Linked DNA regions of Homo sapiens: all the other regions are linked to region 1. The links come from fine-mapping of genetic effects on gene expression. A gene starts in region 1. Each other region holds a variant in brackets. All regions are shown on one strand. Distances are between the middles of the regions. Region 1 holds the start of SLC24A3 (solute carrier family 24 member 3). Region 2 overlaps SLC24A3 (solute carrier family 24 member 3). Region 3 overlaps SLC24A3 (solute carrier family 24 member 3). Region 4 overlaps SLC24A3 (solute carrier family 24 member 3).

The links.
Region 2: its variant is fine-mapped to the expression of SLC24A3 in fibroblasts (GTEx, PIP 0.94).
Region 3: its variant is fine-mapped to the expression of SLC24A3 in whole blood (GTEx, PIP 0.98).
Region 4: its variant is fine-mapped to the expression of SLC24A3 in whole blood (TOPMed, PIP 0.98).

What each region holds. Positions count from the first base shown.
Region 1 is chr20:19,207,841-19,215,947 of GRCh38, reverse strand. It overlaps SLC24A3 (solute carrier family 24 member 3), which reads right to left and starts at 3,306. Exons shown (of 17, transcript NM_020689.4): 1 at 2,964-3,306. The coding sequence starts at 3,105. LOC101929547 (a long non-coding RNA gene) reads left to right here and starts at 3,480. Exons shown (of 3, transcript XR_007067549.1): 1 at 3,480-4,319; 2 at 5,507-5,884; 3 at 5,979-8,107. RefSeq lists a silencer at 2,906-2,955 and an enhancer at 7,941-8,107.
Region 2 is chr20:19,256,271-19,264,377 of GRCh38, reverse strand. The region is part of intron 1 of SLC24A3 (solute carrier family 24 member 3); the gene reads right to left. It overlaps SLC24A3-AS1 (SLC24A3 antisense RNA 1), which reads left to right. Exons shown (of 8, transcript NR_024564.1): 4 at 225-300; 5 at 2,505-2,669; 6 at 6,683-6,749. Among named protein-coding and RNA genes, the nearest start is that of SLC24A3-AS1, 24 kb to the left of the region's middle. RefSeq lists enhancers at 3,358-3,407, 5,077-5,166. The variant T/C (reference allele first, on the strand shown) is at 3,546.
Region 3 is chr20:19,327,812-19,335,918 of GRCh38, reverse strand. The region is part of intron 2 of SLC24A3 (solute carrier family 24 member 3); the gene reads right to left. Among named protein-coding and RNA genes, the nearest start is that of SLC24A3-AS1, 47 kb to the right of the region's middle. The variant A/T (reference allele first, on the strand shown) is at 4,919.
Region 4 is chr20:19,337,094-19,345,200 of GRCh38, reverse strand. All of the region lies in intron 2 of SLC24A3 (solute carrier family 24 member 3), which reads right to left. Among named protein-coding and RNA genes, the nearest start is that of SLC24A3-AS1, 57 kb to the right of the region's middle. The variant G/A (reference allele first, on the strand shown) is at 4,911.

The sequences.
Region 1 (8,107 bases):
CTTGATTCCAGCACTAATTCTTCCTGACCTAAATTAAGCAGACCTCATGTTACACCTCAGCAGAAAAGAATCAATGTAGATTCTTACTGCATATAACCAAATACTGAATATGTGGAAAATGTTTTCAGTATATAACCAAAACTTTTCAGTACATAGCCAAATCTGAGTTTCGTTAGATGTCTAGAAAGGGATCTTGGATTCCATATGATTAGAAATGTTATGAAACATCATATAATATAATTATCACACATCTCTATTTTGCTTTGGTAAAAGAACTGTCATTTTAAGAGGAAAGAAGAGAGAAAGGAAGGGAGCAGGAAGGAAGAAAGAATGAAGGAAGGAGAGAGGGAGGAAGGGCCAACAGAAGGAAGGAGGGAGGGAAAGGTCAATATGTGTTAGAAAACGAGCTTCTGAGAAGTTACATTTAACAATCACTGCATGGCTTTCAAGGTGACTAAATGAAAATATTACCTTTGATCATTATGAAGGTACCCCCTATGAGATTATATAAATATTACAAAGCTACACCCAAATGGTGGTTTGAATATGAGGACAGAGTAGGGAACAAAAAACCAGGTTACCTCAGGTTGGTTTTTTCCTCTACTCTTCGAATGCTGTGTGACTTTAAGCTAATCACTCAGCCTCTCTACACCACAAGGTCTTCGAAACAATGCTCCATTCCAAACTTCAGTATCTGTACCAAAGGACCACTAGGTAGTGTGTGCTCCAAGTTTCCAGGGTAAAAGTCACCATTCAAATGCTTACGTGTGCCAAACGACAATTCCCCTTGCAAAATTATCATTTGCAGATTCACACACATTAATTAATATGTTAAAAATTATCTAGAAAAACCTGTGTCTTGCTGCAAAATACTACTGTGCATCACATACCAAAATCATCAATACCTAACGGAAAAAAAAGTGATTGGAGACCATTTCAACTCATATGTCATTCGGGGGCAACACAGGGAGGCTGGCTGGCATCCTCCTTAACATTTGGCTTTTGCCTGTTAGATCTTCAGTTACTGGGGTGTGGAGGGGTCCTAAGACCAACAGAGATGAGAAGGGAGGAAGAGGAAGTGAGAGGAAAAAAGAATATGAAAGGTAGGAAGGAGAAAGGTAGGACAGAGGGAGGGATGCGGAAAAGGCCGTGCTATGGAACTAAATCTGAGTCAGTGGCACCTGAATAGAAATGTCACTACCAGGGAAACCATTCCAAAATGACATTCCAGTCCCCAGGTTTCAAGTTTGCAGAGTGTCTGGCCTCCTCTCCTCCCAAATCCCAGCTTTTCAGGGCCCAGGCAGCCCCCTGTCACTGATTGACTTAACTATATGAGTCACATCCTTCACCCAGAAAAAAATGTCTTTTATATTCTTGAAAGTGGTGGGAACTCTATGTCTCATAGAGCCCCAACATACCAGAAAAAAATGGCCAGCGTGTAATCCACTAGGAATAGCCCTTTCCAAAGGTGGCATGAACTATAAACTGGTTTTTCACTGGAGAAAAATAAAAAAGGAAAATAAAAATGGGATTCGGGAAAACCCCCTTAGTGAGACTGTCAGTAGACAGAAGTCTGGCAGATGTGAATCTGCCCTGGGAGAGATTCTGCTTCCCTCACACCGGCACGGCCCCCTTCCTGATGTCAGAACCCAAGGCTACGGGATCTGAGATCCAGGAGAGCAATGGAGAGAGCCGTGGAGTCTTGAACAGCTTCACTGAAGACCAAGACGGACTCTCTGCTATTACCATAAATGATGAAGTCTGTCAAGCGGTCTGCTAAGACTGAATGAAGACTGACGCCTGTTTCACTTCCCCACCAAGCAGGAGACCAGCCAAGCTGGGGGAGATCCCTTTTTAAATTCATGGCACCTTTGAAAATATTTTACGGTGACTATCAAAATGTCTTTATTCTGCACCTCATGACATCTTGCATTAGAGCTACGTCGACCTCAACACCACAGCACATACTTGTAACTGTTTTTTTGTTTGTTTGTTTTGTTTTGTTTTGTTTCTTTCTCACAACCCTTTACATGGCTGTTTTCCCACTAATCGTGCCACTTCCACGGCCGGGATATAAAACCATTTTACAACAGTTATTCTCCCATGTTTTTCCTTCATTTTATAGACAGCTGAATCCCAGGATCGAAGCTGTTTCAGCAGACAACTGTTGGGAGCACACAAGATCTATTTCAGCTCAAGAAAGGCCAAGGACAAAGACAAGACAAAAGTTGTGGGTTAAAGGGCAGACTTTGCGCAGAGCACCGGTAGAGGAGCGGACAGTGTGATGCGTGGTCCACTGCAAACCATTTCTTCCACAGCAGCAGCTCTGCAAAAGGGACCTCTGAGGAAGAATTCCCTGTCTTCCCAGTGAGTGGTCATTTTAGGAGAACAAGTCCCCTACTAGCCCATAGCTGGAGGGCCAACACTTTTTCTCTCCCTGAAGTTCCCGGCACCTGTTCTGAAAGGGGGTTGAAGAGCTCTCTACTCGGGCCATCCCGCCTGCTCTCTGGATGGAGAACATACGGACAACTGTGTGTTAAGCAGTCCCCTTGAATCCTTCAGCAAGCCAAGGAGTATACAGGTGGTCACCTGCACAGGTGCCGGGTCTACCACCACAACTTTATCCCTGGCCTTGGGGGCTGATGGAGAGTAAGACTCCCCACCACCGCCACCAGCAGTACCTCCAGCTCGCGAGTAAGCAGCGCACAGGCGGGCACAGGTAAATGTTCCCAGGGCGGCCAGACGCCTAAGCCTGCTGGCTGCTGGCGCTCAGGGTCCCCACCTCCATGCCTCTGCGTGGGGCAGGGGGAGTCCTCGTGCCTGGCATCCCACTCCCCCCGCCAACCCAGCCCGCTTATCCTGGGGCTCCGGCCGGGCCGCCCGAAGGAGCCCCGCGCCCAGCCCCGGGAGCCCCGAGCCGCCGGAGCCGCAGCGCCCACTCGGGGCAGGCAGCGTGCACTCACCCTTCTGCTCTCGCAGGCTCGACAGCGACCAGAGCAGCAGCGCCACCGAGGCCAGGAAGCAGAGCTGGCTCAGCAGAAGGTCCCTCCGGCGGCGGCGGCGGCGGCGGCGACGCGCGCGGTCCTCGTCGCCGGACGGCCGCATCCTCGGGCGGCCGGGCGGCGGCCTCGGCGGGCGGCGGCCGCTCCTGTCGCGGGCGGCCGCGGCGGGGACAGCGGCAGGAGGCAGCCCTGCGCGCAGCAGCCGCGCGTCCTCGCTGCGCTCCCACCCGGCCGCCGCCTCCGCCTCCTCTTCCTCCTCCTCGCCGCTGCCCGTCTCCTCGTCGTCGCCCTCCTCGTCGCTATCGCCCAGTCCCTCCTCCCCTCCCTCCTCCTCCTCCTCGCCGCTCGCCCGCGCCGCCGCCTCCCGGCGCTCGGGGTCCCGCTCCTCCTCGCGCGCCATGGCTCCCACGCTCCGCGCCCGCGCTCGGCCTGGGGCGGCGGCGCGGCGGGGGCGGCGGGGGCGGCCGGGAGGCGGGGGCGGAGGGGGCAGAGGAGGAGGAGCGGGGAAGGACCGACGGTAGGAGGGCCCGCCGCTGGCCAACTCCGCCGGTTGGCAAAGCCACCCCGGACTGGCTCTGGCCTCGCCGGCTGCAGGAGCGCCTCGCGGGGCCGCCCGCCTATTCCATGGTCGGCGCGATGGGGGCCGGGGCCGGGCCGGAGCGAACAGGGAGCACCGAGCGAGCTGGGAGCATGAGCTAGCGCAGCTCCCGGCAGCCTGCAGCGGCGAGGCTGGTCGGGCCAGGGTTGGCGGGGGGCAGTGCCTGGGACACAGCCCGGCGCTGGCCGGCATGGCGGGGAGGGGGCGCGCTGGGAGGAGACTGGGCTGGGGAGGGATCCCTGTGTGCAGTCCTTCAACCCTTCTGTGCCAGGGGAAGAGGGACGGCGCAGGGGGCCCCCTCTCGGGAAGCACACACGCTGCCTCCCAGAGGCCGATCTTCACCAAGAAGGATTCGCTGGAAACTTTCGGAAAACCGAGGGGCTCTTCAGCCTCCTCTCTACGTGCTACCTGGAGTCGGGGCGCCGCGAGTGCGCTTGGCTGCCCGCGCCCAGCCTCTGGCCTCGCCTCTTCTCGCGGGCCTCCCGGGTTTCCCTCTGCCCCCTTGCGGGGATCCCCCTGTGCGCCCGACTCGGGATCTGGAACAGGCCTCCCCAGAGGCTGTTAGTTCCATAAGGGTGTCCGGCTCCCCCCTCTGTCTTGGGCTCACACTTCGCTTTCTGTTCGTGCTGGACCAAGTCCAATACTGTGGCTGATCGAAGTGGGGACAGCTGGCACGGTCCCTGGAGAGGCGGCCTGAAGAGGCTTCTGGCCTTGTGCAGGTAACACCAGCCTGCCCTACCTCCAACGTTAGAATCTTAGTCCTCCCATTTCCCCCATTCTAGGTCTCCTGCCCCTCCTTGCTGAAGGTGTGGGCTGCCCTAGAGATGGCTGGACTCACGACCTGCCGCAGGTGCCCATTTGGAGGGGATCCCTGGCCATCCCAGACACAGCCCACTCTCCCTCATTGGGCTTCCCTGGACTCTTCCCAGATGCTAGCCTGGGGCTGCTGGCTGGGCTGAGGAGGAGATGCCATTGTTGGGGCGGAGGGTGGGGGGGCGCTGAAAACAAAAGACCTTGTCCAGAAAGGGATCACCTGAAACCAGGTGTCTGTCTAGGTGACTGTCTCCATGGAATCCATTCAGATCAGGGAATCTAGCTTCATACCCTAAGGAGGTGGGAAGGAAGCAGAGAACCTCTGTATAAGGCTCCCCTGTCTAGGTCTGTTCAAATGTGTCCCCACCTGTGACTGACCTACCCCCCCCGACCTCCTCCCAGACAATCCCTGACAGCGCCCGGGGACAGCAAGGTCACAGCAAAGGGCAAAGGAAGTGGTTATAGGTGGCCTCCTTTCCAGAGAAAGGCCATCTCACCCAGGGAGACCAGAGACTTTTCCTTTGTGGGTATATCATTTATGACTGCTGTTCTCAGCCTGGCATCTTCCAGACACTCAGAGTACCTCCCCCACAATGCCTGAGTGGTTTTCCCTTTGCTTTGGCTGCAGATACTAAGGAGGGTGTAAAAATACGAGTTCATCCGTGCTGGAGTGTGTGGGGAGAATTCTCTAGTTGTGTTATCTCCATCAAGCTTTTGCAGACACAGAAAAGAAAGTTTAGGAGCTGAGAAGAATTCAACTAACCAGGAAAGTCACTCAAATAGTGTTTTCTAGTGAAAACGAGGGAAAATAGAAGGTGAGAGAGGGAATCTGGAATTAATTGAGTTAGGAAATGAACACAAGCTCCAGGGGAAAATACCATAGGCTCAAGGAATTGTGTAATCTGGTGATGGAGGGGGAGTTAGGAAGGGAGCCAGGAGGAAGGAGAATAACCAGGAACTGGTAATTTCTTGGAAATTATCTCAGCACCAGGAGTGTATGTGTGTGTGTGTGGCGGGGTGGGGCGGGGGGGCCGGGGGAGAGCACTCCTGTGGCACACAGAAATGATTCTTGGGTTTCTATTCATTTTGACAGATTTTGGAGTGAAGGGCACTGTTAAAGTAAAGCACAGAGAGTGATTCCTTGGGCGGCCAGGCACCACCTAGGGAAGAAAGGTGGGGATCCTGGTCCCTAGGCTGACAGCAACTGAGACCTGATAGGTTCCTCAGCCCCCCAGGTGATGGCCAAGTGAGACAGGCCTCAGGAGCTCCTCTCCAAAGAAAACAGTCATTTTTTTTCCTACCTGTCCCTTTCAGTCTTTGGAAGCTCCCTCCAGAAACCGAACTGTGAAAGGAGCAAGAGTTGAAATGAAGAATGTGCTCTGATACTTCAGTCTGAGAGTATTTCTTTCCTGGAGAGAGAGGCATCACTCCTAGATGTGTGGGGGTCTTCACCCTTTCAGGAATAAGACAGGTGTCTTTACAGAGCACCTCCCCACCTTGGGCTGGGTTCTGGGGTCACTGTCTACTCCCCCTGTTTTGACCTTCCATAAACATTCTGTTTTCAGGTCCCTGCAGAGACTTTGGACCTGATGTGGTGAATAAAGTTGGTTAGTCTTTCTCACAGTTCTACCTTTAGGACAAAGAATAGAAAGCCTCCCGTGACTATATTCACTAACTCTCAGCCCAGGCCAGATCATCCACCAGCCAGTGAAAGGGACCTCGTCTGTGGCCAAACTAGGTGCAGCTCGGTGCCCTCCTGTGATATTTCCAGCTCTCCAGCCTCCTGCTGACCACAGCTCACAGACCTCATGGAGTAGTTTCCAGGACAAAGCAAGGTTATGTCTCCACAACACCAAACATTCCCAGGTGTGGCAGGCAAGCCATTGATTTAGAAGAGAGGAGGAGAGAGGAAGAGAAAACCAGAAAAGGCACTTTCTTGGTAAAGAGACATCAGCTTTCTCACCATGGCTGTTTCATAACACAAGGAGACCTGGCCCAAGCTCAGAGGGGAAAGACCCCTGGGTGTTCATGGAAAACCTTTAAGCACAGTGAGACCAAATGTTAGTAGATGGGGGATAAAAGGGAGAAATTCATGGAGTATGCCTAGAACAGGCCTTGTATGCAGCATCCCCTTCTTGCCTAGGACTTGAAGGGCCAGGCTTCCTGTCATTGCCTCACTCAAATGTAGCCCAGGAAGACATTAGACTGATAGCACTGATCACCTCCAGACAAAACCCCTGCACCTGCACAGTCACATAGACTTGGACAAAAGCCCATCCTTACTAAGGAAGACCTAACAACTATTTCTTCTCACGCCCATTCTTGTCCACCGTCTTTATCAAAAAGCCAGGAAAACTGCTTCTTCAGACACTTTCTGAGCCGGCTGTATTTTGAAGGACAAAAAAAAAAAAATTACTCTTTTGAGAGCATTGTGTCTGCAAGGTGGGCTCACGTTATTTTTGGTGATCAGTTTATGACTGGAGTTCAAATAGACTGCTTATTTTATAAGAGTTTTTAATTTTGAATATTCTTTTTGCTGAACTGTGTGCATTTGTTTGGTTTTTAACTCACCACATGAATATGACTATAGATTTTTTTTTCCTAGTTGACCATGGTCAGATTCACAATTGCCTTTAAAAAAAATTTGTTGGCTGGGCACGGTGGCTCACGCCTGTAATCCCAACACTTTAGGAGGCTGAAGCAGGTGGATCATCTGAGGTCAGAAGTTCGAGGCCAACCTGGCCAACATGGTGAAACTCCGTCTCTACTAAAAATACAAAAATTAGCCAGGCAGGGTGGCGCATGCCTGTAATCCCAGCTACTCAGGAGGCTAAGGCAGGAGACTCTCTTGAACCCGGAAGGTGGAGGTTGCAGTGAGCCGAGATCACGACACTGCACTCCAGCCTGGGTGGCAGAGCGAGACTCTGTCTCAGAAGAAAAAAAAAAAAAAAAGAAAATGTGTTGAAGTATAACATACATGAGGCAAAACGCACACAGCTTAAGCATTAACTCAATGACTCTGTATATACGTATACATCCTCACAGGTTCCAGACCAAGACATGGAACATTTCCTGCTCTCCCTGAAAGTCTCCCTGTGCCAGCCCCTCACCAGGCAATAATTCCCCAGAGATAGTGCCTCTTCCCAACCCTGTACCCTAGATCATTGTTGCCTGTCCTTGAACCTCAGATAAAGGGAGGCTCCTTTTGCCCATCTTCGTTTTTGTGATGTCTGTCCATTGTGGTGTGCATAGCTGTGATTTGTTCTTTTTCACACTGTGAAGGTGTAGGTGGTTTTCACCTGATGCTTCAGTTCCCTTCCAACTTTAGTATAAGCCAAGAATAATCAAACCACTACATCTGGATCAGAGACAAATGACCTCCCAGATTGGCTAGTTTTGTAAGGAACTTCAGTTGAAATTGAAACAGTCATCAGCTGCTTCTCAAACCAGCTACACTACATAAGGAGGAGCCCAAGGGAAACTGCAGGACAACAGGTCCACTGGGAAACTTCAGGGGGCCAAGCTGTCAAAGACAAGCACAGAAAAATTCCTGCAATGTGCGTTAGACCTTGAGGCAGCTTTTAATGGCAAAAGTCAGTACAACCCATTTCCTTTTTCTCTAAATGAGAGGAAAGTAGAATAGGTTCCATCAGGAAAGAGTCACACCCAGGCCATGACAAACTCATGGAGGATC
Region 2 (8,107 bases), 48 kb before region 1:
ATGCTGTATTGCAATGAGAGTCTGAGCTTACACTGAACTGCCCATGGCACCTGAGGCTGGCACCAGAGGAGAGCCGAGGGTCTGTCTTGAGGGACACCAAGTGATGTCAGCCCTGAAGGTAACCTTGACCTCATCTTGGAAACAATGTCTCTTAAAACAAGTGGGAAGATGTGTTTGGTCCAGAGCCATAGAAGTGGATAATTTTTTTTTTTTTTTTTTGACAGGGTCTTGCTTTGTCACTCAGGCTGGAGTGTAGTGGTGGAAATTAGCTAGCTAGAACTACAGACGTGCACCACCACAGTAAGCATTTTTTTTTTTTTTAGAGATGGGATTTCACTATGTTGCCCAGGCTAGTCTCGAACTCCTGTCTTAACCTCCCAAGTCGCTGGGATTACAAGTCTGAGCCATCACCGCCCCTGGCCCATAGATTTTCTGATAATGTTTCTCTCTTCTCCTTTCACCATTGGAACTTGACACCAGAACTAAAATATCCTCTTGATGCCTCACAGTGAGAAAGACAGAACTGAGGGGAGGATAGGCAGTGAAGCTTTCGTTTAAACACAAAGCCACTTTATTCTTCTCACTTTTTCCTATTCTTTGGCCCATTGCTTGCAACTTTCCAAGTTGGAACTGAAACCAGCAATAGGAGAATAGCAAGGTTGAATGGAAAGAAAGATAGATCCATGCCCTCTCAGTTTCAGCCCAGAGTCTGAGATCCACTGATAGGTAAGGGAAGGCAGGGAAAGGAGAGAGGATGTGGCTCAGTCAGACCAGGAGGGGTTGATGCAAGCAGGACTTTCCTGGCCACCACCTGCGCCTGAGAAACGGGGAGGCTTGCTTTGCATATTTCAGCCAGAGAGCAACGCCTCTCTCACTCTCATCCCTAGTGAACCCCTATATTTCTAATTGATTAGGCATTTGCCTAAATAATCAGGCTTTTTTTATTTTTCAGACTCCTGACAAGGAGCACTGGTATCTAAGTGCAGACTTCCAATAACGTCCCCCCTTGAAAACAAGCAATATTCAGCATGTAGGTTTGGCTGTGTGCCCCTAGCTGAGGGCTTCTGTCTCATTCTTCACAGTTTGCTCTTTGCGTGGCTTTCTGCTTCCTTCTCTCCAGCCCACATTCTCTCTCCAAAGCCACATGAGACTGTTCCCTTCTCAATGCTGTGAGCTACCCTGCTCATTGCAGCCACTACCAGCCAAGGTCAGCAAGTCATCTGATGGGAAGCCAGAAAGAAAATCCTTTTCCATTGTTTCTAAAAGTGAAAGAAACAGGAACAAACGTGGGGGGGTCAACAGAAAACACACACACACACACACACACACACACACACACACACAAAGGCTGGAGTGGGTGATGGAGCGAGGGATTCTAGGAACAAAGGGGCGTGTCTGTCTCTTCTGGAATCCCATACGGTCACTCCATGGCAGCAGGATGAGTGGGTGGTGAAAGGGCAAATGGCTCGGGGCAAATATTGTGACTATAAGGACACACGCAGCTTTGTCAGTGCCCAGCACACAATCTCACAGAGGGTAGACACTGCTGAAGTTAGAGCTGTATTACATTCAGAAATAATCGTAAGAGCAAGAGCAGTAGTTAGTGTAAAGTGGGTGGGATTAGTAAATGTCCCCATCATAGATACCACACACATTGTCTTTTTCTCAAGATCCCTTCCACCAGTCCCCATTGAGTAGCAGCAGAAAGTTATGGAGAAAGGGGAGAAGGGGTGGCCTGACTTTACCTTAGTTCCAGGGATGGGCCATCATCATTGTAGCACAATTGGGGGAATCAGCATATGGCATCTCCTTGACCAAAGGGACTGGTTCAGGGAGAGGTAAGTGGCCCCATTCCTGCCAATGAGATGGTAGGGGAGGTTTGCTGGTGGCTTCTGAGAATAAAGCCCTCTTTATCAGAGAGAGCTACTGATGTCCTATTTCTCTCTCTTTCTTTTTTTTTTTTTTTTTTTTTTGAGACGGAGTCTCGCTCTGTCGCCCAGGCTGGAGTGCAGTGGCGCGATCTCGGCTCACTGCAAGCTCCGCCTCCCGGGTTCACGCCATTCTCCTGCCTCAGCCTCCCGCGTAGCTGGGACTACAGGCGCCCGCCACCACGCCCGGCTAATTTTTTTGTGTTTTTTAGTAGAGACGGGGTTTCACTGTGTTAGCCAGGATGGTCTCGATCTCCTGACCTCGTGATCCGCCCGCCTCGGCCTCCCAAAGTGCTGGGATTACAGGCGTGAGCCACCGCGCCCGGCCTCTCTCTCTTTCTGTGTATAGAGGCGATGCTTGCAACTGCTGCAGCCATTTTGCCACCATGGAGGAAGCTTCTTTGGGAATGATGCTAACATAAGGAAGGGAGGGAAAGGAGAAAACAACACTGGGTCCTTGATGACATCACTGTCCCATTGATCCTACCTGCCTTGACACCCACACTCCCTGCAGAAACAGCTGCTGATAAATCTCCAATACATCAAGCATTTTGCATTGTTTTCTATTTTTGACAGTGTGAAGCCTCATGACTTATATGTCAGATTAAGCCTTTTGTTAAGAAGATATAAGCATTGTCATGAGAAACACCAGACTTTGGTTTAAGTTACTGCTCTGCAACTTTCGGACCTACGTGGCCTTACGAATGCATAAACTTCTTCCTGGAAGCTGGCGCTACACAGGTGTGGACTGTTCCATATATGAGCAAGCTTGGACACAGATATTTTTGTGAAGGGCAGTAAGGCTGGGCACAATGCCTCACGTCTGTAATTCCAGCACTCTGGGAGGCTGAGGTGGAAGGATCGCGTGAGGCCAGGAGTTCAAGACCAGCCTGGGCAATACAGCAAAACACCATCTTTACAAAAAAAAAATCATTAAAAAAAAATAGCTGAATGTGGTGATGCACACCTGTAGTCCCAGCTACTCATGAGGCTGAGGTGGGAGCCACTTGAGCCCAGGAGTTCGAGGCTGCAGTGAGCTGTGATCATGCCACACCACTGCACTCCAGCCTGGAAGAGAGTGAGACCTTGTCTCTAAAAGTAAAGTAAAATATAAAACTGGGACAATGAATGCTCACCACAAAGTCCCCATCCCCCTTCTTGGGGGTCCATTGTCCATTACCTCACATCATGTCTCCATCAGGACAGCCTGTCAGTCAGCTCTAGCACCTCTCAGCTCTAAACTGCAGTAGAGAGGGAGGACAGACCAGAACGAGGAGTCTCTGGAATAAATTCCCATCTTTCCAAGGGGATTCCTTGCCTCAGAGAGGTTCAGTGAAGCCAGAAAAGGCACTGTGAAAGGTGGTGTCTGATTTGCAAGGCAGCTTGAAGCAAGGGTTGAGCCTCATGAGGAGGGGCTGGGGCTTCTGAGGGGCTATAGAAAGTCTTCATTGCCATGTCCTGCTTCCAAGGCAACCCTGATTCGGTTTCCCATTAGAAACACATTGAATCTGTGACTCGACCTGATCCCATCCTCTCCAATGACAGGCTGTCTACCGCCAGATGATAAACAGGAAGTCACTGAGTAAGAGGAGCGTGTCGGTCCATGCCGGAGGGGGT[T/C]ACCTAACTTGGGAAGGCAGAGCTCCAGTAACCACATCTCATACTGAGAATGATGCCTACAGCAATGATGCCTCGCAGGCCTTCTGCAAAGGGTGGCAGAGGAGGACAGCAGTCTCATAGCCTCAATCTTTTTTGGGAAGCAGTAAACCAAACACGCTCTTCTATAGAGACAAGTGCAGCAGTTCTTTTCACAAATTCATGCAGAGGATGCACATGTTGTGAACTGAGAAATTGTATCTCGAGTTCTTTCATTTTCAGTTCAGTTTTACTTTACAATAACTGCTGCTCTTGCTACTATTATTATTTCTAAATACAACACAGCTCTAACTTCAGCAGTGCTTACCTTACCCTCAGGGAGATTATGTGCTGGACACTGGCAAGGGAATATGTGTACTAGGAGTCATAATATTTGCCATGCTGAGTATGCTGACCTCATTCCGGGCATGGTTTTGAGTACTTTCTTTTTGCATCTCAACACCTTACTTAACCTTACAACAGCTTTGAGAGCTGGGTGTTGTTATCCTCACTTCCAAAAGAAGAAATCAATAGCTCAGAATCGAGTCCAGCAACTTGCCAAAGGTCGCAGGCTACCTGTTATCTCTGCATAGGACTAGACTGCAGGCAACAATTAGCCCAATGTCAGCCTTAGGACCATCCTGGCAGAATAGAGGTGATCTTGAATATAATGGGAAAAAAGAGAAAAAGAAAAAATAACAATGATGAAGTTGATCACCTCAGGTTCACAGGCTGTGCAGCAGCAGAGCTGGGCCTGGTATCCACCTTCCAGATCCCACTCCAGAGACCTTCCCTTAATATTTTGCTACCTTAATCTCAGGGCATACGGATTCTTTTTCTTTGGCTTCACTAACATGCTATGTATTTGGCATGATCTTCCCCTCAATGTTTCCATCTGAGACATGGGAGGGAGAGACCTACTTTGTTAAAAGGAAAACATGATAGAAACATTAAAAAGAGATTTTCCCATAGCACAGGGGGAAAAAACTATAAATAGAGTGAAATGTTAATGGTGAAATCCTGGTGGTGGGTATCTGAATGTTCACCGTCTAATTGTTTTGATGTTTCTGTATGGTTGAACATTTTCATATATAATGTTGGGGGAGAAACAATGTTTCCAATATCTCAGTGGTACATTAATATTGATAACACCCTCTTGTAGTATCTGAGGGTGATAAGAAGAAAGATCAATGCAACAGCAAGGGCTGCGGTCAAGCTCGATGTGTTCCATGAACCCCTCCAGGGGTGGCCATGACTGGCTGCCATGTGGCCACTGTGGTCACATCACCTTGCCTGGTCGCCAATCTTCAGGTGTCGCTGCCACTCAGCAGTGCTCCACTTCTGAGACTGTTTCTACTATGATTAAAGGCCTCTGGTCCTGAACTGTCACCAGCAGAGTGACATGGTGCCAACACATGGCCAAGCATATGACAAACATCTACTGTTGACAAGACAACATCCTAGAGGTGTCAGGCGGACGGAAGCAGCCCATTCCAGAAGGAAAGCTCCTGCATGCTGGGTCCTTTGCTCCTGAGACATCTGTACGGTGGAGTCAGAGTGTCCCAGCACCTCGCTGTCTCTCAAGCTGCACACTCGTTTCATTTCCTCTTAGACCTGCAGTGTGACTTATCTTTTCATCAGAGGGGCTTGGAGGGCTTCCCCTCAGTAGCAAAGCCATACCAGCAAGATGTCCTCCTGGGAGATCCATGAAATAACTTGGCTCAGAAGCAAATTATCTCTGAGCAGCTCTATTTTCAATCCTTCCTCGAGATATCACTATTACTAGAAAACTTACCTGGCTCTAATTTAATTGTGAAACAAGGCTTGTCCCTGTGCTAATATTAAAATGGAAATCTTCTAGTGAAATGGCTCATTTCTCTGGTGAATTATTGCCAGAAGGAGATAGGGCCTGAATGCAATTTGCTTAAGTGTCTCACAAACCACTCTGATTCCTGAAGACACTGGCCTTATCTTGTGCTTGATCGACCCTGCACAAGCTGCCTGTCTGCTGCTTGTTCTCTGGAGTTCTCTGAAAAGCCAGTGCTTGGTGGAAAAGCCACAGGAAAATGTTCACTTTTATATCTGCCTCATCATTATAGTTTCTTTCTTTTATTTGGAGACAGAGTCTCACTCTGTCACCCAGGCTGGAGTGCAGTGGCGCGATCTCAGCTCACTGCAACTTCCGCCTCCTGGATTCAAGTGATTCTTCCGCCTCAGCCTCCCGAGTAGCCGGGATTATGGGCACGTGCACCACAACCAGCTAATTTTGTATTTTTATTAGAGACAGGGTTTCACCATATTGGTGAGGCTGGTCTCGAACTGCTGACCTCGTGATCCGCCCACCTCAGCCTCCCAAAGTGCTAGGATTACAGGCGTGAGCCACGGCACCCCACCATCATTATAGTTTATTACTATTCCTCTGTATTTCTAATTATCATCTAAAAAGATGCCCAGTACCCAAAGAAGTTTGCTTTTGCCCAGTTTTCTGGAAAAATGTTCAGAGTGGCTTTTACCAAAAGCTCTCTTCCCCTTGCCTTTGCCCAAAGCCTGGAATGGGGAAGAAGAGCTCATGGGGTGGGAAGAAGAGCTGTGAGGGCAGAGGCAGCAAAGGTGCCCGCCTCCAGGAGCTTGCAGCTGGGCCTCCCCAGGATGGCGGTGCTTCTATCAGCTGTTTACATGAAAACAGGTGAAAAGGGAGGTAAGCCAGTTTAGGAACGGCATTCCAAACAGGAAACTACCTGAGTGCAGGTGCTGCAGAAAACAGAGGTTGATAAAGGCTCACAGCCCCAGGGCTCAGACTCTTACCAGCCTTTAAGAAGCAGGTGAGCTGGGCACAGTGATGCGTGTGCCTGTAGTTCCAGCTACTCAGGAGACTGAGATGAGAGGACGGCTTACGTGCAGGAGTTTGAGACTGCTGTGAGCTATGATCTCCCCACTGCATTTTAGCCTGGACAACAGAGGGAAACCCTATCTCTAAAAATATAAAAATCAAAAGAAGCAGTAGAAGGAGTAAACAGGAAAGACTCAAGCTCCCAATGGAAATACACACCATATCCAGGAGTTTGGAGGGTGTTTGGTTGGATTTGGTTTTTATGGACATGAACACACTCTGGTTCTTGCAGGAGTCAAGCTGCTCTGAAAAGAGATATAAGTGAGACTTCTGAATTTCCCTCCAGCACCCAGAAAAAGGTAGGAAACATAACAGGCATTCTTAATTAATTCCTGCAGGAGAACTAAGGTAAAAAGATGCTTCCCAACATCATCCTGAGCCCTCCTTGGAGGTACAACTGGAGGCCGAGATTTGTGTTTTGACATTGAGCCTTTTGGGGATTCAAAGGCACCTCCCTGGTCTCCCCCCAGACCATAAAGATATGAGAAACCCAAGCACCTGTTCTTGGCTGACGCCAGCTGGGAATTTACTGCCCATTCTCCTGGGCCTGATGCCCAGCAGGGCCAGTCTCAGCGGAGTCAACCGTCTGAGAGGAGGATCGATTAAGGAAACCGCTGTTCAGGCTTAGACTATAGATTTTTTGAAACAGCCCCATCCACAGCTGTAGATGGCTCCAGGCTGCTTACGGAGGCAGGAGAAAGTGATGGTCCCAGCTCCTGGGCTCGCCTTATGTGACTCTGTGCCTCCTTTCAGGATTTCTCTTTAAAAACCTATTTTTGCAAATGGTTTTCAAAAAGACCCAAATGAACTTTTTTCAAGTTGGGTCATAGCCATGATACCAGATGAGTCATCAGAAGTCCAAACCTAGGGATCGTTTTGTGGAAGAATATAATTTTGGAACTAGGAAGGTCCTTAGAGAGGGTTCGGTGCAGCAGTCCAACAGAAATCTAATGCGAGCCATGAATTCCAGATTTTCTAGCAGACATATTAAAAAGTAAAACCAAACAGGTGACATTAATTTCAATAATATATTCTACCTAACCTGATATATCCAAAATATTAACATTTCAACATGTAATAATTATAAAAACTATTTTATCAGCTTTATCAATACATAGCTTAAGTATCATAAAATTCTCTTTTTTTTTTTTTTTTTTTTGAGACAACGTCTTGCTCTGTTACCCAGGCTGGAGTGCAGTGGCATGATCTCAGCTCACTGCAACCTCTACTTCCTGGGTTCAAGTGATTCTCATGCCTCAGCCGCCTAAGTAGCTGGGACTACAAGCGTATGCCACCATGCCCGGCTAATTTTTGTATTTTTTGTAAAGATGGGGTTTCACCATGTTGCCCAGGCTGGTGTTAAACTCCTGGCCTCAAGTGATCTGCCCACCTCGGCCTCCCAAAGTGCCGGAATTACAAGCGTGAGCCACTGCACCCAGCCAGTACCATAAAAATTCACCCATGTAACGTGTACAATTAAATGGTTTTTCATATATTTACAGAGTTGTGTAACCATCACCATCATCTAATTTTAGAATATTTTCATCACCCCAAAAAGACACTTTGCATCCATTAGCAGCCACTCCCTGTTACCCTCTTGACCAGCCCCAGGCAACCATGAAACTGCTTTCTGTCTCTATGGAGCTGCCTGTTCTGA
Region 3 (8,107 bases), 120 kb before region 1:
CAATGTCTGTCTTGGGCAAAATAAGGGAGAAAGATGGCATGAAATGAGTCAAATATCCCACACACTGGTCATGTATGTTCTACATCATCATTACCCATTTTCAATACAAGTTAATTGATGCTAACTCAATTTAAAATGAATTGTTGATCATGCAGGATGCTTTTCAGAAACAGGTGTGAATAATCTTCTGAATACCCTTGACCCAGTGATCTGATTGCCAGCTTCAATTATTTCACCTTAAAAGTCAAGAGCTGGTCAATACACTGAATCTGGAAAGGACTAGGCAAAATTGCCTAACCATTACTATCTTCAAATATGGGCATTGAGCTGGAGGCATAATTCCAGTAACCCCCTTGCAACAATATTTACCTGAGCAGCCTTTATCTGGGCTAAGTCAAGCACTTGGGCAGTCCTACAGGAATGAATTCCTTATCACTGAAGGCTCCAGCAATTACTGTTCTCTGTGTGCAGAGCTAGGATGCAGGGCCACAGCAATTTCCTACAGTGGTCCTCGAAAAAACTGTTGAATTTCATTAATTAGCAATTATCTTCAGCTGAGCACACAAAGTCCTATCTGTGGGCTAAGAGAAGCTGGAAACCCATCCAGCTAAAGTAGAAAAGACAAGATTTAAGGGGCAGTGGATATATATCCGTGGACACCACTCATTTCATTCTAGCCCTCTTAATTCCTAACTTTGAGACTATGAGACTTTGAGGGATTCATTTTCTAATATTCTATTTAGACTTTCACTATCCATGATGGTAGCCAATAACCGTATGTAGCTATTTAAAATTAAACTAAAATTAAATAATATTAAAAATTTAGTTCTTCAGTCATATTCCAGTCCTATTTCAAGCTATATTACTGCACAGTGCAGAGGGAGAATATGTCCATCATCAAAGAAAGTTCTGATTCAGACTAAAGTACCAGGTGCTGCAGTGCTCTGTGCCTATCTCCTGCATATGGCACAGCAGAGGCTGTTCACCACTGACATGCTAACCCTGTGTCTGTATGCTTAGTTTCTGGCTGGGAGGGGACATTCAGCCCACATGCAGGATGGGTCAAGCCAGCAGTGCCAACAAACACCCCTAGAAGCAGGGCTCAGCGAATGGCAGGTGGGAATCAGCAGATGAGCCCCCCAGCGTCCATGTTTCCTGGCTTACAGAGCTCTGAGGCGTGTCCTACAGAGGCTCCCAGAGGTGCCAAATTGCAATGAGTCCCAGCTGCCCACAGCAATCACCTGCTTGCTGAAATTCCCTTAATTGGCTTGACTTGGGTTGCCTTCTTTAGGAACCCACCTAAGACAATGAACTTCACTGGTAGTTCACAAATTGTAAGACAGTCACATTGATGTTGGCACTGAATCTTGGTGTTTGAAAACTAGCCAACTTTACCAGTGAAAAAGATGATCACTTATGGAATCAATATATGAGAGCTCAGAAAAAAATTAAGTCTGTTGCCTTACATTACAGAATTCTTTTTTTTTACTGTGTTGATATACTTCATATACTTTTGTATGCTTCATAGCACTCTTTATTTTTTTTACTGTGTTGATATTTCTCAGTTTGATCATTTTATTTAATTACCAAACCCACTTTTGAATTATTTTAGCTATCTCCAAAAATCAAGCCACTCTCCAAGGACAACATTTGACTGCACTGAGAATACTGAAGGGAATACATCCCAGGCTCTGAAAGCTATTCCCACAGTCTGGCTCTCAGGACCTTTGGCCAATAACAAGTCATTAGGATAAACGGACCATACTCACGGAGACAACGACCACCCATTTACATGTTTTGTTTCCTGTGTGACTTTTACAATTTGATTTCTTCATAGTCACACTTGTCTATTTCTCTTTGCTGTCTTTTTTTTTTTTTAACAGCTTTTCTTCTGATATAATGCACCTGTCATACATTTTAACCATTGAAAATGTACAATTCCACCCTTTTTTAGTATACTCACAGGATGCACAACCATGTCTTTTCTTGTCTTCTTTCACCATAAATGGAAACAGGCAGTTTGACCTCACACATTATTCCAGCTTAAGAACCTTATGGCTACATTCAAAAATCAAAGACCAAGTCATGTGTGGTGGAGGACAATTTACTGGCACTGAGGCTAGGCAACAGAATATGCAATCGTTATACTAATGTCGCTCCTTCCCCTCCATTTTTCAGAATTACCGTGTTCAGTCATCAACTCACCTAATCCCCAGGGCAGTAAAATAATCAGTTATACTGCACACACACACACACACTCTCACACACACACACACTCACACACACACACACACACTAGCAAGACTGGACTCACCAGTAACATATTGTTTGCTCAACGAAATACAAATTCCCACACAAAAATGTATTCTTTTAAAAAATTTCGTTTCTCCCTAGTTCTCTGATTATTACTGATACCACAAACCGCTTTGGTGAAACAATTCCCTTCTCTTCCCACACCGCTCTTTGCAACAGGCCAAATCTGTCACTTCCCCCTAAGACTCCTGCATCTGCTGGGGCCACTGAAGCTCCCACCAGAATCTGTTTCTCAGCCCCTAGTTTGAGCACCCTGGTTGTAATGAACAGATGCATTAGGGCAGATAAATATTAAGTCCAGGGGGGAAGATAAAAGGGTACCACTCTTCATAACCAACTGAATGTCTGACCACAACTACTGATGTCAGGGATAAATTTCTTTCCAGGGACACCCACTGTCCCACTACACATCCCCTCACTCCTCAGACAGATGACAGATAAACAGACAGACAGCCACATGGCTTGAAGTGTGAAGGGTTTACAACCACTGCCCCTCTTTAAAGAATCACTCACAGCTTTGAAGGACACTTCCCTGGCCCTCCCAGTTTCTGGCAGGATGATCCCACAACAAAACAGCCCTCTATTAGCCACAAGAACCCAGACACAGCCCCTTTAGCCTGCTAAAGAAAAACCTCAGTTCATCTGACCCTGGGAGGAGACAAAACCAGAAAGCTATTTAGAGCATCCTCCCTAAATTGTCCTGGCTCCCTAGACTTAAGAATTCCAAATTCTCAATGAGGGTGGCTGGTAGCACAGGATAGAGGCAGAGAAGAGAACCCACCAACAGGCAAGAAAAGCCACAGCCTCTGTGTCCTCAGAGTATCCCATGTAGTGCTGGAGTGTTCATGGGACCAAGGTCCTCTTGCCACCTCTCCTATTTTAGGGAGCGCTGGGAACCCCCAAATACCCTTCTGAAACCTCAAGGTGGTTTTCTCCCTGTGGAACTGGGTCTCCTCAGTCCCATTCTGGGTTTCTATTTATTCTTCCCCAGTGCTCAAGACTGAAGGCAGCTCAACAGCAGAAAGAAGTCAGTTGAAGAGAGATGCATTTTTGTCATTCTTGGCATGTGTCAAAGTAATGTTGGAAAAAGAAACCTGGTAAATTTTTAGAGTTGCTGAAAGGCATTGAGTGACTTCACTAAAGACATGTGTTGATATAAAAGAAATAAAAAAAGATGGTGTGCCGGAATCATGCTATACTCCTAAAGACATCAACCCCATGAGGGTGAGGGCTGGCGAGGGGAAACAAGGCAAGGGGGCTCAGGGAGCTGCCTTGCTCCCTGTTGAGGGGGTGGCTGTGTCCCCAGAGAGGCCACAGCGGTGGCCCACTGGCTTCTGTTCCTGCTCAGTGTCCCACTACAATTCAAGCTCCACACAATAATCAGAGTGATATATGGAGACATGAATTCATTAATGTCACTTCATTCTTCCAACCTTCCATGGACTCCCTCTGCTACTTAGAATAAAATCTAAACTCCTTACCATGGCAGACAAGACCTTAGATGGTCCAGCCCTGCAAGACGCTCCAATTCTTCTCCTTCTCTCCCTAATCCCCAGCTGCAATGTCCTTCTGTGTTCCTCAAGCACCTCCGTCTCCCTCCGGCTTGGGTGCCTTTGCAGCGGCTGGTCCCTCTGCCTGGAATGTTCTTCCTTGGCTGGTTATAGGAATGACTCCTTCCCTCAATCAAATTCCTTTTCCCATGGCTCCTGATCCAAAGGACGCCTCCCATCGACCCCCATCACGACCTATTCCTCATTCCCTTTTTCCGTAACACTGATCAAAATCAGATGCTTTCTAATTGTTCTTTGTTTATTCCTTAATTCTGACACCTCCCCCTAGAATGGAAGCTTCATGAGAATCAGGAGCTTGTCTGTGTGGCTCACAGCATGAAAGATGGGGCCTGAGATGGACCAATGCCCAATCAATCCTGAAAGAAGGCATCAATCAGTCAATAAAAAGGGGGCCTGATTTATTTATTCTATTTTTTGCAGGGAAGTAATTTCAAACTTGTAGAAAAATTACAACAATCGTACAAGGAACTCCCATAAACACTTTACCCTGATTCACCTATTGTCAATATTGTACTCATTTTTGTTAGCATTCTGTTTATCTATCTATATCATTTCTATCTCTATCTATTATCTCTCTCTATCATCTATCTATGCATTCATCCAACTATCCTATCTATCCATCTATCAATCATATCTACTCTATCTACCTACCTACCTACCTATCTGTCCACCACTCATCCATCCATCTATCTATACCATTTTTCCTGAACTGTTCTAGAGTAGGTAGCAAGCATCATTGCCCCTCACCCTTAAATACTTCAATGCTTATTTCCCAGGAATAAAGGAATTCCCTAACATGACCACAGCACACTCATCAATTCCAGTAAGTTTATCACTGATACAACTCTTTTATCTAAACTTCTGTCCATTTTCAAACTGTCAATTGACCCGATAATATGCACTAAAGCACTTCTCCCTCCAGTACAGGATCTGATTCAGGTGTGGTTAATTAGCTGTCCCACCTCCCTGGTCTCCTCTAATGTGGAGCTATTCCTCAGCCTTCCTGTCTTTCACAACTTCAGCATTTTGGAAGA[A/T]CACAGTCCCTTGCTTCAATAGAATGTTCCTCATTGGGGGTTTTTCTGGTGCTTCCTCATAACTAGATTCAAGTCATGCCTTCCTTGCCAGAATACTGCAGAAAGGAAGGTGTATCACATGTGGAGGGCACCATGACCATCGGTCTCCTTGGTGATGTTAACTTTAACAAGGAAGTTTCAGTCAAGGTGCTGTCATATTTACCCACTGTACACTTATGAGAGGCATTTGAAGACCATGCAAATATCCTCATCAAAACTTTCCCATGGATTTTGCATCTACTGATGACTTTTATCAGACCAATCTTTACTGTGATAGTTACAAAATTATGAGTTTCCAACTCAGCACCTTCTCCACATTTAGCAGTTAATAGTCAGTGTTCTACTGAAAGCAAGAGCCCTCCTCCTTCCACATTTGCTTCTCCACTGCTTTATCTATTTATTATAAGTATGAAATCATGGATTCTTATTTCCCAAGATTTATATTTTATCTCCTCTCCTGAAATATACCATATTTGGCCAGTGAGAGCCCTTTCAAGATGGCTTCTGTATAAAAGAGGATAATTTTTAAGTACATTCATAAAATCCTGGTTGCTTCAAAGATGCCCTTTTTCCCCTTTAATGGGGAAATAAGCGTTTCTCCCACATCAGGGCCCTGGACAGCTGGGGGCCATTTAATTGGCTCAGCCACAGCTCTTCACTGTCCCTGACCACCTCCTCTGGGACAAAGAGAAACCAGCCCTGAGGAGTCTGAGCAGGTCCAGACCCACCGATTGGAGGCCCTCCTCAGCCCAGCCCTGCCCAGGGAAACCTCTGGCCAGGAGACAACAGCACCGCATCCCTGCAAGCAACTAAGATGGTTCCGTCCTAAGGCACGATTTTGTTTCAGAAGACGAGTGTGTCATCTGGTTAGCCCCAGACTCTTGCTGCAATAAACATGGTGTAAAATGGTCTGTGATGTGTGTTAAGGAGCCCTTCTGAGTTAAAATCATGTGTAGAGACTGCAGATGATTAAAACTAATTCCAACCAGCTCGAGGGGTGTCCAGTAACATGGCAGGCCTCCAACCTGGAACAAGCAAAATTTCACATACATCAGCTCACAGAGGGTCCCCACATGCTGCCAAGGTCAAAGCCTTGACCTTCAAATAGCACAGGTAAAAGGCTAGCACTCACTGTGTATTAAGTAGATGAGATGAAGCAAACAGCAAACTTGGAATCAAGGAACATGTTTTCAACCACAAACTAACTCACCTGAGTCACTTAGCTATGAAGGGGGAAAAATATTTCTGGGGCAGAAGATTCAGAAGGAGGGATCTTATCTGTTCCCAGAAGAATAAATCCACAATATATCTCACTGCCCTGCAAACTAGGCAACAAATTCAATAATACTGCATACAAAATAGCCTTCATAGCTTCATGATAGAATAAAACAATCAAACATTATAATGACCAAAGTAATGTGACAAACTTCTTTCTTGAGCATATGAAATGATTTATAAGTGCCCAAGGAATAGCTGAACTAAACTGGACTTGAGAGCATCTCGTTGTGTTTCCTATAGGAATAATGACCGGCTCTACTGATAGGAGGGAAGGTATGCTCATGTAATGAAGGAGTGCAAGAAATGGATTCAGATCAGTTAATATGAATAGAAAAAAGACTCTGTAAAGCCAATACATTCAGGTAAACAGGAAACCATTTCATTAGCATAAAAACAAGCTTTTTTCTTTTTTTATTATTATACTTTCGTTTTATTTCTAACCAGTAAAAAAAAAATCTTATTCCCATTTTCCCTATGAACTACTATACTACTTCACCTTTCTGTAGCAAAACTAAAAAGAGTTATCAATCTGCTTTGCTTCCAATCCTTCCCCTTCCATCCTCTTTTGGACCCATTACAATCAGAATTTTGTTCCTACCAGCACCACAACTCTTCCTGTCCATGTCACTAATGGCCTTGGAGTCGCCTGATGCATCCACAGCCTGCAACCCACTGCTCACTCCCGCCTCCCTGGTGCCCAACTTTCAGGCCACCTCTCCTGATCCTCCTCCCGCCTCGATGGCTGCTCCTCCGAGCCTCCTCTGCTGGCTCCTCGCAGAGCCTGGGCTGGGCTCTTAGTCCTCTCTCTGCTTACGCTTGCTCCTGTGGGGAATCCCCTCCACTTCATGGCTGTCAATATAAGCTTCTGTCTTCCTCCCAGTCCCCCCTTGGTATCTCCAGCCTTGACCTGCAGCCTGAACTCCAGATGCACACACTCTTATTATCATCCTACTCATGATCTCAACTGGGACACCCAGGACACATCTCAAAATGAGCACTTCCAACACAGGACACCCGGTCTCCCATGAAGCTCACTCCACCCGCCCCTCACCTTCTCCTACAACTGCTCAGGCCAGGAATTGCAGAGTCTTCTATTGCTCTTTCTCACCCACATCCACTCCTTCAGGGTGTTGTCACCAATTCAAACCATGTCCAGTCAATCCTGCAAGAAGGCAAACCATGTCCGGAATCAGATACCGCCTCACCCTGCCCCTGTTACTGCTCTGAACTGAGCCACCATTATTATAATACTCTCTGGAGTCTTTCACCTTCCACTCTTGCCCACTACATTTTATTATCAATCCAACATTCTGGTTGATCCTTTAACAATGTATGCCTGGTCACAGGAAGCAAGAGGCGGCTCTCCACTCCACAGTGAATGCAGAAGACCTCCACCAGCCCCCAAGACCCTAAGAGACCTGGTTCCCCACGACCTTTGACGTCCCTCCAACTCCTCTCCTCCTCCCTCATTCTGCTCCAGCCACACTGACCCTCTGTGCCATTCTCTGGACACACCAAGCGTGCTTCCATCCCTGGCCTTTGCTGCCCCTCTGCCTGGATGCTCTTCCTCAGAACTCTCCATGGCTCCCTCCCTCCCTCCTTCAGAGACTGCTCAAATGTCACCTCAACCTTGGCCTTAAAAAGCAAGCCCTCCAAACTCCCCCCAACTTGTCATCCCTCTCACCTTGTTCATTTTTTTTCTGTATCACTTTCGAGCATACTTTACATTTATTTGTGCATGTTTTTGTTTGTCTTCACCACCAGCCCCCACCACCCCAATGGAAACTCCATGCATGGAAGGACTTTTCCTTCTTTGTTCCTTGTCCTTATGTTCCAGAACACATAATGAGTGACACACAGTGGGTGTCCAAT
Region 4 (8,107 bases), 130 kb before region 1:
ATACTCTTCTAATTCTCCATTCCTGGCATATAGGAAAGCAATCAACTCCTGTGTCTTTGTATCCTGCAACCTTGTTATAATTACTTATTAGTTCCTGGAGATTTTTATCAATTCTTTGAGACGTTCTACAGGCAATCGTGTCAGCTGTGAACAAAACCAGTTTATTTCTTTCTTCCAAATCAGTGTGTCTTTTCTTTGCTTTTCTGGTCTCACTACATTGTCTAGGGCTTCCAGTATGATGTCAAATAAGAATGATGAGAACGGACATTTTTGCCTTATTTCTGATCTTAGGGGTAAAGTATCTAGTTTCTCACCATTACTTTCACTGTTAAGCCCTCCATGTGACGTGGAGTAGTAGGTGCTCTACACATTTTCCCTTGGCATTCAATCTTCCTTGTCTGGGAGCTTTCTCTGGCCACAGACCAGGCTCCATCCATTATGTGGAGAAGCCAGGAGTGCTGGGGAGTTAATTTCTCCAGAAGCAAACGTCAACCAATAGCAGACAGGAGTTGGTAAATAAATGCTCCACAGTATTCTCACCTATTTTGGGAGACAAGCCTGTGGTATACTGTCTGCAGTGTCCCAGTCCTCCCCGCCTCCCAAGCCACTGAGTGGGTTGAATCCCCATTGTCCACAGAAGTGACTTACTTATTATCACATCTTTTTTGGCTTCCTGCCCTTGCCTGTCTCACTTCCCACTCTGCTACCAGTGCCTCTTGCAACTACCTCCTAAATAAACTACTGAATTTAAATGCTAGTCTCAGAGTCTTTTCTTTGGGAACCCCAACCCAAGACCAAGCCATGTACATATGTAGTTATGGTTTCACTCTATCTAAAGGTGTAAAAGGCTAGGATTCAGAATGCTCGCAAGTACTGCTCAGAGACAGAGTATCATATCCACTAGAAACCCAGCTAGTCATATATCTCAACCATATTATTAAACTTCAAAAATAATGTGGTAGTAAAAAATCAAGGAAAGTAAGAAGACAAACACATTTTAAAAAATGAATTAGCAATACACTTTATTGTGGCTGCAACATGTTCACTGCTCTTTCCATCATCCACCATTGTTCTCTTTATTCACTGAAGGAGGAGGTGTTCACAGATACTCATCTGCTTTCCCCAAGTCAGAAACCAATGTTCAGAAGAAAAGTCCACCATGGTTCTTTCTAGGTGCAGAAACCAGGGTCTATTACTAAGGTCTGAAATATTTCCAGATCATTACTGGCTACAGGTGAGGTCCACAGGAAATATCACCCGATGGCTTTAGAAAACAAGTCCGAGTCCAGGCCCTTTATGCTGTAACATTTCCACCAGGCGTATATCACCTGTAAAAATCATGTCCTAGTCCCCTTTTCCTTTTTATGAGTGAGACGCCTACCAACTGGTCCATAAGGCCCTCTATAATCTGGCTTCATTGAATGCATCCAACATTATTTCCTAACACTTTCCAGTCCCTCTTTCTGCTCCAACTAGAACTGGCTTTAAATCTTGAGCTCAGAAGAATTGCTCTCACTTGGTGCCACCCTCTCATGGCAATGCCCTCCTGTCTTCCCTCTGTCTGCACAATTCCAAACAGCCCCACAGAGACCCTGTACTCCATGAAGTATTACTTCCAACTCACCATTTTTTTTTTCTCCTTCAACTCTCAGAGAAGTAAGGCTGTACATTTCTACTGGGTGCAAAACAATATCTGCCGTAATGATGAGATACGATAGACTAAATTATGAAGCACTCACTATGCTCCAGGTGAGGGGTCTAATTGCTTCACGTGTGTTAATTCATTTAACCTTCCCCCATACCTTGGTCCTTTTATTATCCACATATTACACATGAAAACACATAGAGTAGGTGATGTAAACTGACTTGCCCAAGGTCACACAATTGAAATGGTAAAGCCAAGACTCAAACTCAGGTTGTGTGGGTCAAACAAACTGCTCTCAGTCTCAGTGGTACATTGCCTTGATAACCAGTCAGCCATCTGAATGTGGTCCAGCTGGAACAGCCAGCCAGTTCCAGAACAAACTATGGGATTTCACTACTCCATGCCTCCACAAATGCTACTCTCATTCCTCTGGATGATTTTTCTGCCTTTTCTTTTTCTTTTTCTTTTTTCTTTTTTTTTTTTTTTGAGATGGAGTCTCGTTCTGTCACCCAGGCTGGAGTGCAGTGGCATGATCTCGGCTCACTGCAAGCTCCGCCTCCTGGGTTCACACCATTCTCCTGCCTCAGCCTCCCGAGTAGCTGGGACTACAGGCACCTGCCACCACGCCCAGCTAACTATTTTGTATTTTAGTAGAGACGGGGTTTCACCATGTTAGCCAGGATGGTCTCAATCTCCTCACCTCGTGATCCTCCTGCCTCAGCCTCCCAAAGTGCTAGGATTACAGGCGTGGGCCACCGTGCCCGGCGCTTCTGCCTTTTCAAACTCTTATACATCTATCAAAGACCCACCTTCGACGTTATCTCTTCCGTCAAGCCACCTTCATCTGGAAGAATTGGCATTTCTTTAAAAAATGCCAAGAGATACAAAGATGAAAATAAAAAGACACTCCTTCTTCCACTAGAAACTCCTTCTTAACATTTGGTACATACATTTCCATGTTGCAGCTTGCTTTTTGCACCTAAAACAGTTGTCATAAATAAATTCCCATGTCTTTCAATATTCAACAACCTAATTTATAATGAGTTTCCCATATTCCAATGTATGATTGCTGTATAATTGAATATGATCTTAAACATCTGATCTGTCCAAAGATTAACATGGCCAACTCAGCAGAAATTTGCCATGATGAATGCCTAGGACCTGATTTTTGGAACACTGGCAGAGTATAGGTCCCATGGTTCTGTTCCAGTTTCCCACAGTGCTTGGGCAAGACATAAAAATGGATTTATCAATGGATCCACTCTGGCCAATGGCCCAGTCATCTTTGCCACTGCCAGTATTTTCTGTCTTGGCTTTAAGCTCCAGGAGAACAGATAGATAATTAGCTTAACTCACTGAATAGGGCATTGCATTAGGAAATTTTTTAAAGACTGGCAAAAGGGAACCAGATCCACAAACAATATTGTTACATGACTATTCTTACAGGTACAAATCAAAGTTGGTGCCCCACCTTAAGTTTCCATATCAATCTAATGCAAACTGACATTTCAACAATAACAACAACTAGTATTTTATAAACTATTAAAGTGCTTTTAATGCTATCTCATTTACTCTTCAAAAATACTTCAAAAATAGGTATTGTATCTACAAATGTGGCCACTGAATTGCAGCCAGATGAGTCCAGGGTCAGAAACACACAGAGACAATGACAAGGACACAGCAGCTGGCACTAGGAGCTGCCCATTGCAGAGGGCATCCAAGATCTGCCTGTCACAGAGATTAGATGGTCATACCTTCATTGGCTTCAACTTCTTCATTTGCAGAATGAAGAACTGAGACAGAGGATATCAAAAAGGCTGTATTCTGTGGGTCTACAGGATGGGAAACTGCTGCTATTTGGGGGACTTCTGCAAGTCTCTGTTTAATGCCAAATTAGCGTTCCTGGGTGGCTGGGAGCTGTGCCCAGTTGCTGAGTGAAGAAGTGTTTACTCTGTCTTGAGTCCTGAGTCCTTCCTAGTGTGACACTATATTTACCCCTGGAATCTGTGAAGTAAGCAGATGACCTTGTTTCTGGTAAGGTGTTACAGCGCAGGCTTTAAGTGAAAACAACAGAGTGCTTTACTGCCTAGAATCCCTCCAGAACACACCCCACAGGCACAGTGGATGGACTAGGTCCAGTTCCCAAACCTACGTGATCCTCAGATGACCTCTGGGCCTTTTGTAAAATACAGATTCCTGGACTCCACTCCTGGAAATTCTGATCTGTTATGTCTGGGCAGGTCCCAGGAATCTGTATTTTAGGAATGGCTTTCCCGGGGATTGTCACAAGCCCCTGAGAACTTCTGAATAAGCTAACCTCTCCAGGCTGCTGTCAACCTAAAATGCTTTGCTGGTTTGCCTACTGTGGTGGGTATCCACCTGGAAGACTCAAAAACTCCCGCTACCCAGACCACATCCCAGACCAATTAGTTCAGCCCCTCTGGGGATGGTTCAGGCATCTGTATTTTCAGAACTCTCTGGGCCATCCCAGCCAGACCTTGGTGCACTCATCCTACAGGTAGGAGGGAAGAGCTTACATGCAAGCAAATCAAGAGTCCTGAACTTGAACTGTGGTTCTATCATTCACTGTGTACAAGTCACTGCCTCCTGTACAAGTCAGCTGCTTCACAAAAGGGGCCCAATGAGACCTCCTTCATTCCATCGTGGTGGGGATAACATGTGATCTGCACACAAATTACCCTGTGCAACTGTGTCGCTCCCTCAACAAATCACATCATACAACTGTACTTTTCATATTACCATTTTTGTTATAAACAGAAAAACTAGATGACAAGATAAGAGGCAGAAATCTGAGCTCATCATGTTATTTCTGGATGTTTATTTGAAACACAGGAATCTAAGTTGCCAAGCGGTTCCCAACCTCATGTTGGAGGACCTGGGAATGCCTGATCCCCAAATTTTGTCAATGGCCTCTCTTCACCCCACTCTTCCTCCCTGCCCAGGCTGTGGGGATGGTGGAAACAGGAAAGTGGGGTGATGCAGTGAGAAGATCCACGCCTTTTATCACGACACCATCTGTATTCGTTTGCTAGGGATGCTGTCAAAAACTACCACAGACTGATTGGCTTAAACCATGGAAACGTATTCTCTGACAGTTCTGGAGGCTAGAAGTCCTAGATCAAGGTGTCAGCAAAGCTGGTTCCTTCTGAGGTTGTTAGGGAGAATTTGTTTCATGCCTCTCTCCAGCTTCTGATGGTTTGCTGCTAAGCTTTGGTTTTCCTCATCTTGCAGGCACAGCCTCCCA[G/A]CAACTGCCTTTATCTTCACATGGAGTGCTCCCTGTGTGCATGTCTGTGTTCATATGTCCCCTTTTTATCAGGACACCTGGCATGCTGAATTAGTACGATACTAATAAACTCATTTTAACTTAATTACCTCTGTAAAAACCTTATCTCTAAATAAGGTCACATTGTGAGTTACTGGGGGTTAGGACTAAGACGCCAACATATCTTCTTTTAAGGGACACAATTCAATCCACAACACCATCCCAAACCTGAACACCTGAGCCCACCCCTTGGATCCCCCACATGCCCCAAGTCCCAGAGACAGAAGACAGGCTGCCAAGGTGCAGGGTCCTGGTTAGAATGTTACTTTCATCAAACATCTCGTTTCATAAACTGCCAGAAGGAATTCTTTTGCAGATTATATGGAACTCACTCATTTTCCTTCTAGAATTCCTCTGCCTTCCTCCCTTCTTCTCTCTACCCAATGTGCTGTTGGTTAAGCCTAATTTATCAAACATGCTTAGTAAAATGTTACTGGCTTGGAGAGGTGTCCACATGCATCTGATGAGGGTTGTCTCCAGGTTACCCTGGTACCCTATCTCCTGGTTGGTTTCTGGCCCTCAGCCCCCAAGTCTTGGCAAACTTGGAAGCTTTGGGTTAAGGACACACTTTTCCCCAGCAGGTAGATCGGGGTGGTATCTCTCTAAAACACCATGTGGGAGGCAATGTGAAATGCAACTCCAGCATTTACTTAACAATTTCTGTTTCTTCTAGCACTGTCATACTTTGGGTTTAGTCTTCCTAACCTGTTTCTTCTACTTTTCCTTATAAAATGAGAAATATTAGAATTCTTGAACAGCTAAATAAGTGAAATGACATTTTTCTCTTTTACAAATGGTTATATAGACTGAGTGATAGCTTAGGAATTAATATTCTTACTGATTCTTCATCAAGTGCATTTATTTACATGCTTCCTTCTGCGGTACAAACACCCACAGATGCTGCACAAGGGGAAAAAAAAAACTAGATACCTAAAAAATAACTGCCCTCCACTCAAATGAAGCCCAGATGGTAAGAATGAGCACTGAACGCAATGATCTGAACTGCAGCTTCGGCCCGATGAACTCCCCATGGAATTACAACAGGGAGGGTATAAAAGGAAGCTCTGGAAGCATTCAAATTAATTACAAACAGAGTCAGGCTATGTGTCCAAGAATGCTTCTCCACGACTCAGCAAGTTCACAGCTCTTCCGAATCTTGGCAGTGTCCCTTTGCTGAGGACCAGCTATCCCATTCAAAATGTGGAACATCCCTGTGTGAATCAAAAATGACATCTCTGTGACAACCCATGGATGTGCTAAAACTAAGCCTTCCCAGCCTTAAAAAAAGGTAATAGAGACTCCTTTGAAGAGGTGAAACTCGTCATATATGGTGGGGTCAGAGTCATAAAAATAATCGTGCTAATAACCTCTATCATTGAGTGAGGGCTTATTCCACACACACAGGTAAGGTGCTTCTCAAGCCCATGCAATTTTCGCAGCCCCATATCATAAGCACTGTTATTACTCCTATTCTATTGATGTAAAACCTGAAGTCCCTTGAGGTCAGCATCTTGCCCAAGGTCACATCTGCATGTAAAGGAGCCAGATTTCCACATTGCATTTGACTCCAGAGCCAAGCTCTTAAATGCCTCATACATCTCAACAGTTCATCCAAACAACTGGCTGAAATAGAACAGGCATTGTGATCATATGGGCAGGTTGGACAGGAGGCCTTGATCCCAGAGGCCAAGACAATGCACTGAGCAGACACGATTCTCACTTCTCAAGTGGTCTCAGTGGCAATCTGCAGACACAGCCTCAGGGAGTTCCACACGTCTGAGAAGTGGAGGACATGAGGGCTCCTTCATAAACCAATCCAAGGGCTGTGGAACTTGTGAGAATGTCAGAGGAAGAAATCCGATATGCAACCAGCCAACAGGCCCCAAGGTTTGCTGACCCTGTCACACAAGAGACAAACCCTGGGAGGCAGGACCCAAATTAACCTCCTGCCATGTCAGAGGCTCTGCTGACCAAAGCCAGAGCAAGAGTGACAGGGCAGGGGAGAGCTTGACTTTGCCATGCGAAACTTCCTAATGAAAAGCTTTATTTAATAGCTTCTTTCTATTAAAGGAAAACAGTATATTTTTTACCATCTTGGTGAAGGGGCCAATGTGATAGATAATTACAACATTTTTTTCTTCCCAGTTCTCCATTCATCCCTGTATCCACGCCCTTTGCAATTGGATTTTTCTCCTCCCATCCTGTGGTGCCTCTATCCCCTGAAGATGGGCCATCTTTGTGACTTGATATGGGCAAGATAATTGAAGGAAGTGATGCTGTGCCACCCCTGCCACCACCCTATGAACAAGTCTCAACTGGCTACTGAGTGATGAGAGGCAAGTGCCAGCCAAAAGCCAGCCAACCACAAGACATGAGAGGCCATCCTAATCGAGCCAGCCCCAAGCTGACCACCAGATGATCACAGAGGCATGAACAAGCTCAGCAACCACCAGCTGATCCTGGCCCAGAGCAACATAACTGCCCAGCTGACCTATGGACTCATAAGCCATAGTAAATGCTTAGCGTTAGAAACGACCATGTTTTAGCGTAGTTTGTTATACAGCTGTAGCTAACTGATAACAATAGGGTTCCCAAGGCATAAATGGAGAATCTTTCCCCAAGACACATGGCAAATATGAGCTTGTTCTGAGCTCATAACAAGTCCATCATCTTATTTACTAAAACATGCTGCTTCAAGAAGAACTACCATGTGTGGACTTTTATTTAATTAATTAATTAATTTATTTATTTATTTATTTACTTATTTTGAGATGGAGTTTCGCTCTTGTTGCCCAGGCTGGAGTGCAATGGTGTGATTTCAGCTCACCGCAACCTCCACCTCCCAGGTTCAAGTGATTCTCCTGTCTCAGCCTCCTGAGTAGCTGGGATTACAGACATGTGCCACCACACCTGGCTAATTTTGTATTTTTAGTAAAGACGAGGTTTCTCCATTTTGGTCAGGCTGGTCTCGAACTCCTGACCTCAAGTGATCCGCTCGCCTCAGCCTCCCAAAGTGCTGGGATTACAGGCGTGAGCCACTGCGCTCGGCCGATGTGTGGACTGTTAATATGTATGAGGTACTAGGAAAAGCACTTTTAGTCCCTTTGTAATTTAATCTT